Homo sapiens: one gene and its partners. The protein of the gene in region 1 purifies or fractionates together with the protein of each later gene. This does not show direct contact. Each region holds a gene or a part of one and is shown in the gene's direction. Other genes may lie near its edges. The genes, in order: RNGTT, RPRD2 and STYX.

The links.
Region 2: the proteins of RNGTT (region 1) and RPRD2 purify together in Homo sapiens (affinity purification with mass spectrometry, with the first as the bait; one large-scale study listed by BioGRID). This does not show direct contact.
Region 3: the proteins of RNGTT (region 1) and STYX purify together in Homo sapiens (affinity purification with mass spectrometry, with the first as the bait; one large-scale study listed by BioGRID). This does not show direct contact.

The regions. Positions count from the first base shown.
Region 1 is NC_000006.12:88,904,592-88,908,246, reverse strand, and holds part of RNGTT (mRNA-capping enzyme), read left to right. Parts: intron 1-1,806; coding exon 1,807-1,882; intron 1,883-3,291; coding exon 3,292-3,532; intron 3,533-3,655.
Region 2 is NC_000001.11:150,367,089-150,370,743, forward strand, and holds part of RPRD2 (regulation of nuclear pre-mRNA domain-containing protein 2), read left to right. Parts: intron 1-3,655.
Region 3 is NC_000014.9:52,754,082-52,757,736, forward strand, and holds part of STYX (serine/threonine/tyrosine-interacting protein), read left to right. Parts: intron 1-2,469; coding exon 2,470-2,530; intron 2,531-3,237; coding exon 3,238-3,274; intron 3,275-3,655. UniProt on the Homo sapiens protein: Catalytically inactive phosphatase. Acts as a nuclear anchor for MAPK1/MAPK3 (ERK1/ERK2). Modulates cell-fate decisions and cell migration by spatiotemporal regulation of MAPK1/MAPK3 (ERK1/ERK2).

The DNA.
Region 1 (3,655 bases):
TTATCAGTATTTTTCTTCATTTTATGCTTTTTGTGTTTTATCTAAGAAACTTTTTCTACTCTAAGCTTGCAAAGATTTACTCCTGTATTTTCTTCTAGAAGTTTTGTAAATCTAGCTAGTTTATTTCTATATTTGATCTTAGTTGCACTGTATCAGTATGATCTATATATACAGAGAAGAATAATTTGTAGAAGGTAATATTAGAAAGATACAGGCTGGGCATTGTGGCTCATGCCTGTAATCCCAGACTTGGGGAGGCTGAAGTGAGAGGATTGCTTGATCCCATGAGTTTGAGACCAGCCTGAGCAACATAATGAGACCCTGTCTTTACCATAGAAAAAAATTAGCTGGGGATGGTGGTGTGAGCCTGTAGTTCCAGCTACTCTGGAGGTTGAGGTGGGAGGATCACTTGAGCCCAGGAGGTCAAGGCTGTGGAACCTGATCATGCTACTGAACTCCAGCCTGGTTGACAGAATGAGATCCTGTCTCTAAAAAAAAAAAAAAAAAAAAAGATACAGCTTAAATATTAGGATATCCTTTAATTAAATAGAAATAACAGGAAAAGCTTCATTTTGAAGACTGTAGGAGAGTCAGCAATATTGTCATGTTTTAATTACTATTTTCAAACTAGTTATATTCGTCTCTTCTCACATAAAGATACTACTCGAGAATGGGTAATTTATGAAGGAAGGAAATTTAATGGACTCACAGTTGTGCATGCCTGGGGAGGCCTCAGAAAACTTACAATCATGGTGGAAGGGGAAACAGGCACGTCTTAAGTGGTGAGAAAAGAGAGAGGGCATGTGAAGGAGGAACTGTCAAACACTTACAATCTTAGTGGTGAGAAGAGAGAGAGAGGGCATGTGAAGGAGGAACTGTCAAACACTTACAAAACCATCAGATCTCATGAGAACTCACTCACTATCACAAGAACAGCATGGGGGAAACCACCTCCATGATTCAGTCACCTCCCACCAGATCTCTCCCTCATGGGGATTGTGGGGATTACAAATTGAGATGAGATTTGGACGGGGACACAGAGCCAAACCATATCAGTAGTTAAAATGATCTTGAATATGTTCTGAGAAAGAGTTTAAGAAAATAAATTTTCTTTCCTAGCTGGTTTCTTTCTTTTAAAAATTTATTTAGAAAGATTATAACCTAACTTGAAAATACAGTTAGTTGGTTTCTAGAGAGCTTCAAGGTAACTTAATTTTTATTGTACTATATATCTATCAGTTAATTATTTTCTGTAGCTAGTCACTTTTGTTGATTATATTTAATTAGTATCAGGCCCCATATGAATTTATATTTCTATTAGTTTATTTGCTCTGTTCTAGCTTCTGGATTTTAGAAAATAGGATTTGACTATTTTGCAAATATATGCCATTGATCATGAAGAGGACCGTTTTTTTTCTACTAGAGAAATTTAAAGTTTGAGGGTCAGAAGGATCTTGTGTGTATGTGTTTTATGTGTCCTTTTGAGTTGTGTGTTTGATGAAAATACCTCCTTATTTAAAATGCTTGGAATCTTCTAGCTTTAGGAGAACTTGTTAAACAGTAGAGACAGTTTTACATCAATAAACCTATATATTACACTTAAACTTCTAGCTAGTTATAAATTAGATTCTAAGCAATTCAAACTGACAAGTTTTCAAGTTATAAGGGTGTTTCAAGTTAAAAAATTAAAAAATGTAATTATTTTATAAACTAGCTGAAATGTTTTGATTGCAGGTTGGAATTTTAAAGTAAATGTGGCCTCTGCAGTGATTTGTTAATTTTAACCAAAGCTACTTTATTTTCTAGGTGTTCATTGTACTCATGGCTTCAATCGCACTGGTTTCCTCATATGTGCCTTTTTGGTGGAGAAAATGGATTGGAGGTATTTGTATCTTGTTATAATGGAAGATGTATTTTGTAATAAAAAATTTTATTGATATTTTAGTTGCAGAATTTTGTATTGTCAAGTTTTTGGTGAACTCATGATTAATGTAATTTGAACTGCTTTTCATTTTAGATATGGTTAATCTTTATACTACCATTACTTGGTGTGTGTGTGTATGTGTGTATGTGTATATATGTATGTTTTGTTTTGTTCTTTGAGACAAGGTTTCCTCTGTCATCCAGGCTGGAGTGTAGTGGTGTGATCATGGCTCATTGCAGCATTCACCTCTTGGGATCAAGCAATCCTCCCGCCTCAGCCTCTCAAGTAGCTGGGACCACAAGTATGTGCCACCCATGCCTGGCTAATTTTTTCTTTTTTGTCTAGTGAGGAGGTCTCCATATGTTACCCAGGCTGATCTTGAATTCCTGGGCTAAAGTTATCTTCCACCCTTGGCCTCCCAAAATGTTGGGATTACAGGCATGAGCCACCACACCCAGCCAGGTGTTTTGCATTAACCAGCAAATCACTTTGAGTGCTTATGAATTTCATAAACTGTATATTCACTTTTTCAGATTTTTTTCACCTCTTACAGAATTATCAGAGACAGATTCTTCCAATATTTTGTATTTTAGTATTTTTGGGAGAGTGTTACTCCATTTAAGCCAATCAACATGTCTTTATTGAGCATCTGTTATTTTTGAAGTGTGTTTTTAGATCCTGAGAGATTACGACTTTAGTACCCAATATTCTTAAGAGAATATATTACTAACTGAATTTTCTTGTTGACTGAGGGAGCATCATTATTTATGTTTACAAAGATTTTCACATAGTAGGTCCTTTTTTGAATATAATCAGTTGAAGTACACATATGATTTTGAATTTTGCAGTATGCATTGTTGGTGGTTCTGTACTGCATGTACTTTCTAGCTCTGACCATTCAGATGCTCTCCACAATGATCTCAGTTTCCTATGTCAGATTTAGCCTATGCTTATCCTCTCTTTGATGATCTAGACTCTTAGTGCCTGGATCTGTTGAAAGTTCCTGTAAAATCAATATGCTTTTACTTTGCTCACATTGTTGTTTTTTTGACTGATGTTTTGCTGCAGAGTCAGACCTCAACCTTCAAGACTAAATTCTTCACAGACCCTATCTAGGTCTCTACTATATACTCATAGCAATTTATTTTTAGAATTTCAGAATTTTCTGAATACCTTATATTAAAACCTTTTCAGAATGAATGTGTCCCTTAATAGATTGAATGACTTGAGGGTGAGGATTGTGATTTGCCCATTTTATAAACTTCTGTTGTACTTTATATGGAGCCTTGAATATAATAAGTGAGTTTTTGATAAGCCTGCATAAATAGAGGATAGCGAGGAAATTGCATGGTGTTTGTTTCCTATAGTATCGAAGCAGCAGTTGCTACTTTTGCCCAAGCCAGACCACCAGGAATCTACAAGGGTGATTATTTGAAGGAACTTTTTCGTCGGTATGGTGACATAGAGGAAGCACCACCCCCACCTCTATTGCCAGATTGGTGTTTTGAGGATGATGAAGACGAAGATGAGGATGAGGATGGAAAGAAGGAATCAGAACCCGGGTCAAGTGCTTCTTTTGGCAAAAGGAGAAAAGAACGGTTAAAACTGGTAATGTTTAAAAATATTATAATAGGTTTTTTTTTTCCTTTTTCTGCAAGCTTATTGAGATTTATAAAAATGGAATATTGGCCATGTTTCTTTAGCTAGGTTTGTCAGATGATTCATCCTAGC
Region 2 (3,655 bases), on another chromosome or scaffold:
AGTGCATTGTGTATAGTTTATATAGTTAAGTGCTTTTGGCTAAATATGATGTTGTTTTTCTAGTGGAATGGAATTTAACTTTCTAAAATGATTAAGGGTAATTTTAGTCGTTTTGTATTTACATTTAATGAACTTCACTGGTCTCATTGTAAATAAAGCGTTTTGAGAGAAATATTCAGCAGAATGGTGTGGGGCGCAATGAAAACAGTTTATGCATGGGCCTTGTTTTCATTTAAGTTCTTATTTCTTTACAGTTATACTTAGTTTACTCTGAGTTTGGTTTCTAAGTCAGCTTTAGGAAAAATTGTGAAGCAGGTATCTTTGGACTCTGAGTTTGGTTTCTAAGTCAGCTTTAGGAAAAATTGTGAAGCAGGTATCTTTGGCATTCCCAGCCTTTCTGTCCATTTTCCTGATGCCACTTTGCTTCTCTTTTTTCTTCTGACATCCGTTATTTAGTAATTTATATTTATATTTAGACCTCAGTATAAATTTAAGTAACTATTAGATTCCAGAGATATTTTAATTTTATCCTTTATTTCAGTGTGTAATGAGACTTTTGTTCATATAAAAGGAAATAATTTAGAGAAATAGGCTATCTAAGGATATGTTCCAGAGATATTTTTATTTTATCCTTCTTTACTTTTTTTTTTTTGAGATGGAGTCTCGCTCTGTCGTCCAGACTGGAGTGCAGTGGCGCGATCTCAGCTCACTGCAACCTCCACCTCCAGGGTTCAAGCAATTCTCCTGCCTCAGCCTCCCAAGTAGCTGGGATTACAGGCACGCACCACCACGTCCAGCTAATTTTTGTATTTTTAGTAGAGACAGGGTTTTACCATGTTGGCCAGGGTGGTCTCGAACTCCTGACCTCAGACCATCATTTTCTAAGGTGATCTTTCTGTAGCATAAACAAATGTCATTCCTCTGCTTTAAAACCCTGCAGTGATATCCCATTGCAACAAGTTGAAGGTCTGAATTTCTTTTACATTGATCTGTAAGTCCTGTACCATCTGCTCTGCCTACCTCGGGCTTCTTCACATCCTGCCTCCTTCTCATTGTTTAGATCAAATCTCAACTATTACCTCCTCAGAAAGACCTACTTTGATCACCTTATTTCTTGTTTTTTTTTTTTTTTTTTTAATACGGAGTCTTAATAGATTTTTTTAAATTACATGTATCTGTTTTTTATTTATTTTAAATTAATTTAATTTAATTTAATTTTTTTGAGATGGAATTTCGCTTTGTCGTCCAGTCTGGAGTGCGGTGGCGTGATCTCAGCTCACTGCAACCTCTTCCTCCCAGGTCAAAGTGATTCTCTTGCCTCAGCCTCCTGAGTAGCTGGGATTACAGGCGTGCACCACTAAGCCCAGCTAATTTTTTTTTTTTTTTTTTTTTGAGACAGAGTTTCACTCTTTTCACCCATGCTGGAGTATAATGGCACGATCTCAGCTCACTGCAACCTCCGCCTCCCAGGTTCAAGTGATTCTCCTGCCTCAGCCTCCCAAGTAGCTGGAATTACAGGCATGCGCCACCATGCCTGGCTAATTTTTGTATTTTTAGTAGACGCAGGGTTTCACCATGTTGGCCAGGCTGGTCTTGAACTCTGGACCTCAGGTGATCCACCTGCCTCTCAGCCTCCCAAAGTGCTGGGATTACAGGTGTGAGCCGCCGCACCCGGTACCTGGCTAATTTTTGTATTTTTTGTAGAGACAGGGTTTCACCATGTTGGCCAGGCTGGTTTTGAACTCCTGATCTCAGGCGATCTACCCACCTCAGCCTCCCAAAGTGTTGGAATTACAGGCGTGAGCCACTGCACCCGGCTTCGCTTTATTTCAAGTAGTGCCTTCAATTGCTGTCACATCATCTTATTTTCAGTATATGATATTACCTTGTTTGTTACACGTTTATTGTCTGGCTTCCCTCCACCAGATGACAAGTTTGTCTTATTTGTTGCCCTGTCCCCAAACAACTAGGATAGTGCTGGCGTACAGTTAGCAATCAGTAAATGTTTGCCAACATAATGTGAAATAGCTAATCAAGAACTTAAGGAACAGAATTGCTTTAATTTCTGTTTATCAGAAGGAAGCATTTATAATTTAGTGAAAGAAATTACAGGTGCAGCAGTTGGAGGCATATGGACTTGATGTGCAATTTGCCCAGATTATCATTTCTGTACTTCGTTCTTCTTTCTCTCTTTTCTGTGGGGAGGTGGGGGAGGGACAGAGTCTGGCTCTGTTGCCCAGGCTGGAGTGCAGGGCATGATCTCCGCTCACTGCAACCTCCGCCTCCTGGGCTCAAGCAATCCTGCCACCTCAGCCTCCTGAGTAGCTGGAACCATGCCACCACACCTGGCTAATTTTTTTTTTTTTTTTTTTTTTTTTTTTTTTTTGAGACGGAGTCTTGCTCTGTCGCCCAGGCTGGAGTGCAGTGGCGCGATCTCGGCTCACTGCAAGCTCCGCCTCCCGGGTTCACGCCATTCTCCTGCCTCAGCCTCCCGAGCAGCTGGGACTACAGGCGCCCGTCACCGCGCCCAGCTAATTTTTTTTTTTTTTTTTTTGTATTTTTAGTAGAGACGGGGTTTCACCGTGGTCTGGATCTCCTGACCTCATGATCCGCCCGCCTCAGCCTCCCAAAGTGCTGGGATTACAGGCGTGAGCCACTGTGCCCGGCCTACACCTGGCTAATTTTTATGTTTTTGTTTTTGTTTTTTTTTGATGCAGAGTCTCACTCTGTCGCCTAGGCTGGAGTACAGTGGCGGAATCTCGGCTCACTGCAACCTCCATCTCCCGGGCTCAAGTGATTTTCATGCCTCCGCTTCCTGAGTAGCTGGGATTACAGGCACATGCCACCACGCCCAACTAATTTTTGTATTTTTTAGTAGAGATGGGGTTTCACCATGTTGGCCAGACTGGTCTCAAACTCCTGACTTCAAGTGATTCGCCCACCTCAGCCTCCCAAAGTGCTGGGATTACAGGCGTGAGCCACCACGCCCGGCCAAATTTTTATGTTTTTTGTAGAGACGAGGTATTGCCATGTTGCCCAGGCTGAACTCTTGGGCTCAAGCTATCTGCCTGCCTTGGTCTCCCAAAGTGGTAGGATTACAGGCGTGAACCACCAGGCCCAGACCTTCTTTCCCATTTTTAATGGTAAAATGGGAATCAATATGGAAAAATATAAAAGAGGCCTGTGTTAACATGTTAACTCCGGTCACTTAATACTGGATGACACTTTGCAAAGTACTTAAACTGTGAACCTCAGTTTTTCATCTATAAGTAGTTCTGTACCTGTAGATGAAAGTTCTACAATCTACAAGTAGAGATAATTCTGTCTGGAATTTACATTCCAGACACTGTCTACAGTGCTGGAAATTACATTCCCAGTTTGTGAGAGACGAATTGGACTAGCCTCTCTGTAGTAAATTAGCATATGCTTTGAAGAACTAGGAGGACAAAATGGAAAATATTGTGTTAATGACATCCATTTTGTCTTTTTTTTTTTTTTTTTTTTGAGACATATTCTTGTTCTGTCACCCAGGCTGGAGTGCAGTGGCATGATCTTGACTCACTGCAACCTCTGCCCCCTGGGTTCAAGTGATTCTCCTGCCTCAGCCTGCCAAGCAGTTGGGATTACAGGTACACACACCACACCCAGCTAATTT
Region 3 (3,655 bases), on another chromosome or scaffold:
GTTTCACCATGTTGGTCAGGCTGGTCTCAAACTCCTGACCTCGTGATCCGCCTGCCTTGGCCTCCCACAGTGCTGGGATTACAGGCGTGAGCCACTGCGCCCGGCCTGAATTTTTTATAATTATGAAAGAAATACTTTTTTTTTTTTCAAAGATAGGATCTTTCTCTGCTGCCCAGCCTGGATTGCATTGGCATGATTTCTGTTCATTGTAGCCTTGACCTCCCAGGCTCAAGCAATCTTCCTGCCTCAGCCTTCCAAGTAGCTGGGACTACAGGTGCACCACCGGATCGGGCTAATTTTTTTTTTTTTTTTCTAGAGATGGGGTTTTGCTGTGTTGCCCAGGCTGTTCTTGAACTCCTGAGCTTAAGCGATCTACCCACCTCAGCCTCCCAAAGTGCTGGGGTTACAGGCATGAGCCACCACACCTGGCCATGAAACACTTATTCTTTATAAGTACTTCGGAAGGTATAGAATGACACCAAGAAAAATATTTAAATCATCTACAGTTCCACAATTCAGAGAAAACACTTTTGTTAACATTTGGAATATTTCCTTTTAAATCGTTCTCTGTTGTGTATGTGTATTTACGTATATATGCATAGAATTATTAAAGAAAATGAGAATGTTGTATTTTAAAATATCAAACTATATAAGGTGAAACTAATCTTAAGAAAAAACAAAAAAGCCAAAAAATCATACTATTCATTTCTAATGTGTACAGACTTTTTGTTTTAAATTATAATGTTGTTTGTGCAGGTTCTTTATCCTAATGGAAGAACCATTTCTCCTTAAACTTTTACAATACTAGCTTCTTAGAGATTGATAGTTCTACTAGCAGTGCTTGACACTGAAAATGTTATGCGTTAAAATATTTAATTTCATTCTGAGTTAACATTTTTCCCCTGAAGCATTATTTTATGTAACTGGAATACCCAGTCACTTCAGGATACAGTCATTGTCGAAATCCTTGTAGGTTAAATATTGGATTTTCCTCAGATCCTGAGGTTCAGCTTCTGTGTTTTTTTTTGTTTGTTTTTTTGTTTTTTTTTTTTTGTTTTTGAAACAGAGTCTTGCTGTTTCACCCAGGCTGGAGTGCAGTGGCACAATTTTGGCCCACTGCAACCTCTGCCTCCCGGGTTTAAGTGATTCTCCTGCCTCAGCCTCCTGAGTAGCTGGGATTACAGGTGTGCACCACCATGCCTGGCTAATTTTTATATTTTTAGTAGAGATGGGGTTTCACCATGTTGGCCAGGATGGTCTTGAACTCCTGACCTCAGGCAATCCACCTGCCTCGGCTTCCCCAAGTGCTGGGATTACAAGCATGAGCCACCATGCTCAGCCTCAGCTTCTCTGTATTAAAGTCCTGAATTCTTTGAAGTTGTTACCACCTAAATGATCATTGAAAAACTGTATTTTTTAGTGCAAAATTGTTCTTAAAACTAATTTAATAACTTAGCTAATTGCCTATAGTTGTGTTAATAAACAGTGGTCTTAGAAACGCTTAGAAATGGAAGTTTTTTACAAAAATAAGCTAACATATTTAAAATGCCTTTTAAGTATTTTGTAAAGTGTAAAATTCAGTACAGGTGCTCTCTCAGCTAGTTTTTTTTTTTTTTTTTTTTCCCCTTTACTAAAGATGAGTTCAAACAGTGAATGTTTGACTCCTGGTTCCATAGACCATACCTTCCGTTTTTATTTGTTCGTTCTCTTAGACTTTGGACTTCCTCTGAAATGTCCTCTGTAGGTTCATGAGCAGGAGTCACAGGACCACTTAGAGAACAATCTTCTGGTCTTAGAGAAATTGGTAGAAATAAAAGAATAACATAACGATTACAGGTACTTTTGTCTTTATTTCTAGGTCCACTCTAATCTAGAGGAATGTATCTTCCTGCTTGTGATTTTTCTATTTTAACCAGATGGTTCATTATATGCAAATAAAATATGTATTTATTTTTGAGATAAGAATCTTGCTCTGTTACCCAGGCTGGAGTGCAGTGGCCCAATCACAGCTTACTATATCCTTGACTTCCAGGCTCACACAGTTCTACCTCAGCCCCCTTAGTAGCTGGGACTATAAGTGCACACCACGACACCCAGCTAATTTTTTAATATTCTGTAGAGATGGAGTCTCCCTCTGTTGCTCAGGCTGGTCTCGAATCCCTGGGCTCAAGTGATCCTCCCACCTTGGCCTCCCAAAAGAGTTTCTTTTTGCTGGGATTATAGGCATGAGCCATTGTGCCCAGCCTGATGGATTTTTTAAATACTTAAATATCAGAGATGTTAACATGGTGTTTCAGGTTTTAATGCCTTCAAGCAATGTAAAATCTACCACACAGTTCTTGGGAATATGATACTTTGAAAGTTGTTTTGCATTCTTGCCATGGTTAACAAGAAATAATGAGTTATTTTTTTAAAGTACCTTAAGTGTTTTACTTAAAGTGTGCTTATCACAAAATACTCTATTTTCAGATATTTAGTCCTGGATATTGCAGATAATCCAGTTGAAAATATAATACGTTTTTTCCCTATGGTAGGTACCAGTATTTTTTAAATATCATTTAAAATTTATTTATGATTTGACTTCTTAGTTGTGCTTTTTTTTTTTTTTTTTTTTTTTTTTTTGAGACAAGAGTTTTACTCTTGTTGCCCAGGCTGGAGTGCAATGGCGCAATCTTGGCTCACCACAACCTCTGCTTCCCGGGTTCAAGTGATTTTTCTGCCTCAGCCTCCCAAGTGGCTGGGATTACAGGCATGAGCCGCCATGCCCAGCTAATTTTGTATTTTTAGTAGAGACGGGGTTTCTCCATGTTGATCAGGCTGGTCTCAAATTCTCGACCTCAGGTGATCTGCCTGCCTCAGCCTCCCAAAGTGCTGGCATTACAGGCGTGAGCCACCGTGCCCAGCCCCTTTAATTGTGCTTGTAAAGCTTGCTACTTTTACTTTGCTATGACTGAAAATTATGTGATTGTGTTTTTAAAAGAATTATTTGTAGAAAATTTTTTATGATCTCCAGAAATTTGAGGAATCATATTGTGAATGTATTGGACTTAAATTAAATTTTGGCTTCTTTAATTTTTTTGGACTTGTAATAGTTCTATTTATAGCATTTTGGAAATTGGTGAATCAAAATAATTTTTATACATATAAATTAGGAAATTGTTTTCAATAGGTTTCATTTTGTTTCATTATATGCATTTATTTTATGCTTACATTAATCCACATGTCTTTTGCCTCCAGACTAAGGAATTTATTGATGGGAGCTTACAAATGGGAGGTAAATAACATTTCCTTTCCTTAACTAATGTTTATATTTTGATTATTTGTTAATTTTTTAGTTGGTATTTGTCTTAAATGCAGGATATGGAAGTTACAATTATATGTAGTAGCTTACTCCCAAATTTGTATTTTCCCAATTACTTGTTTCATTTGGATAGGCTTTCTGGAGTATCCCTGTAGACTGTTTTCAAATTCTCTGTGAGCTTTCAGTTTCTTTAATAAGAGTCTGCTATATTCTCTACACAGTTGATAATAACAAATTGTAAAGATTTGAAGATATCCAAGTGATTATAGTATATAAGGAGTTACTTTACTGTGGTTTCAATGTAGTTCAGCTACTGACTCAGGTGTTTTTCTATTAGAATAATGAATTCATGTT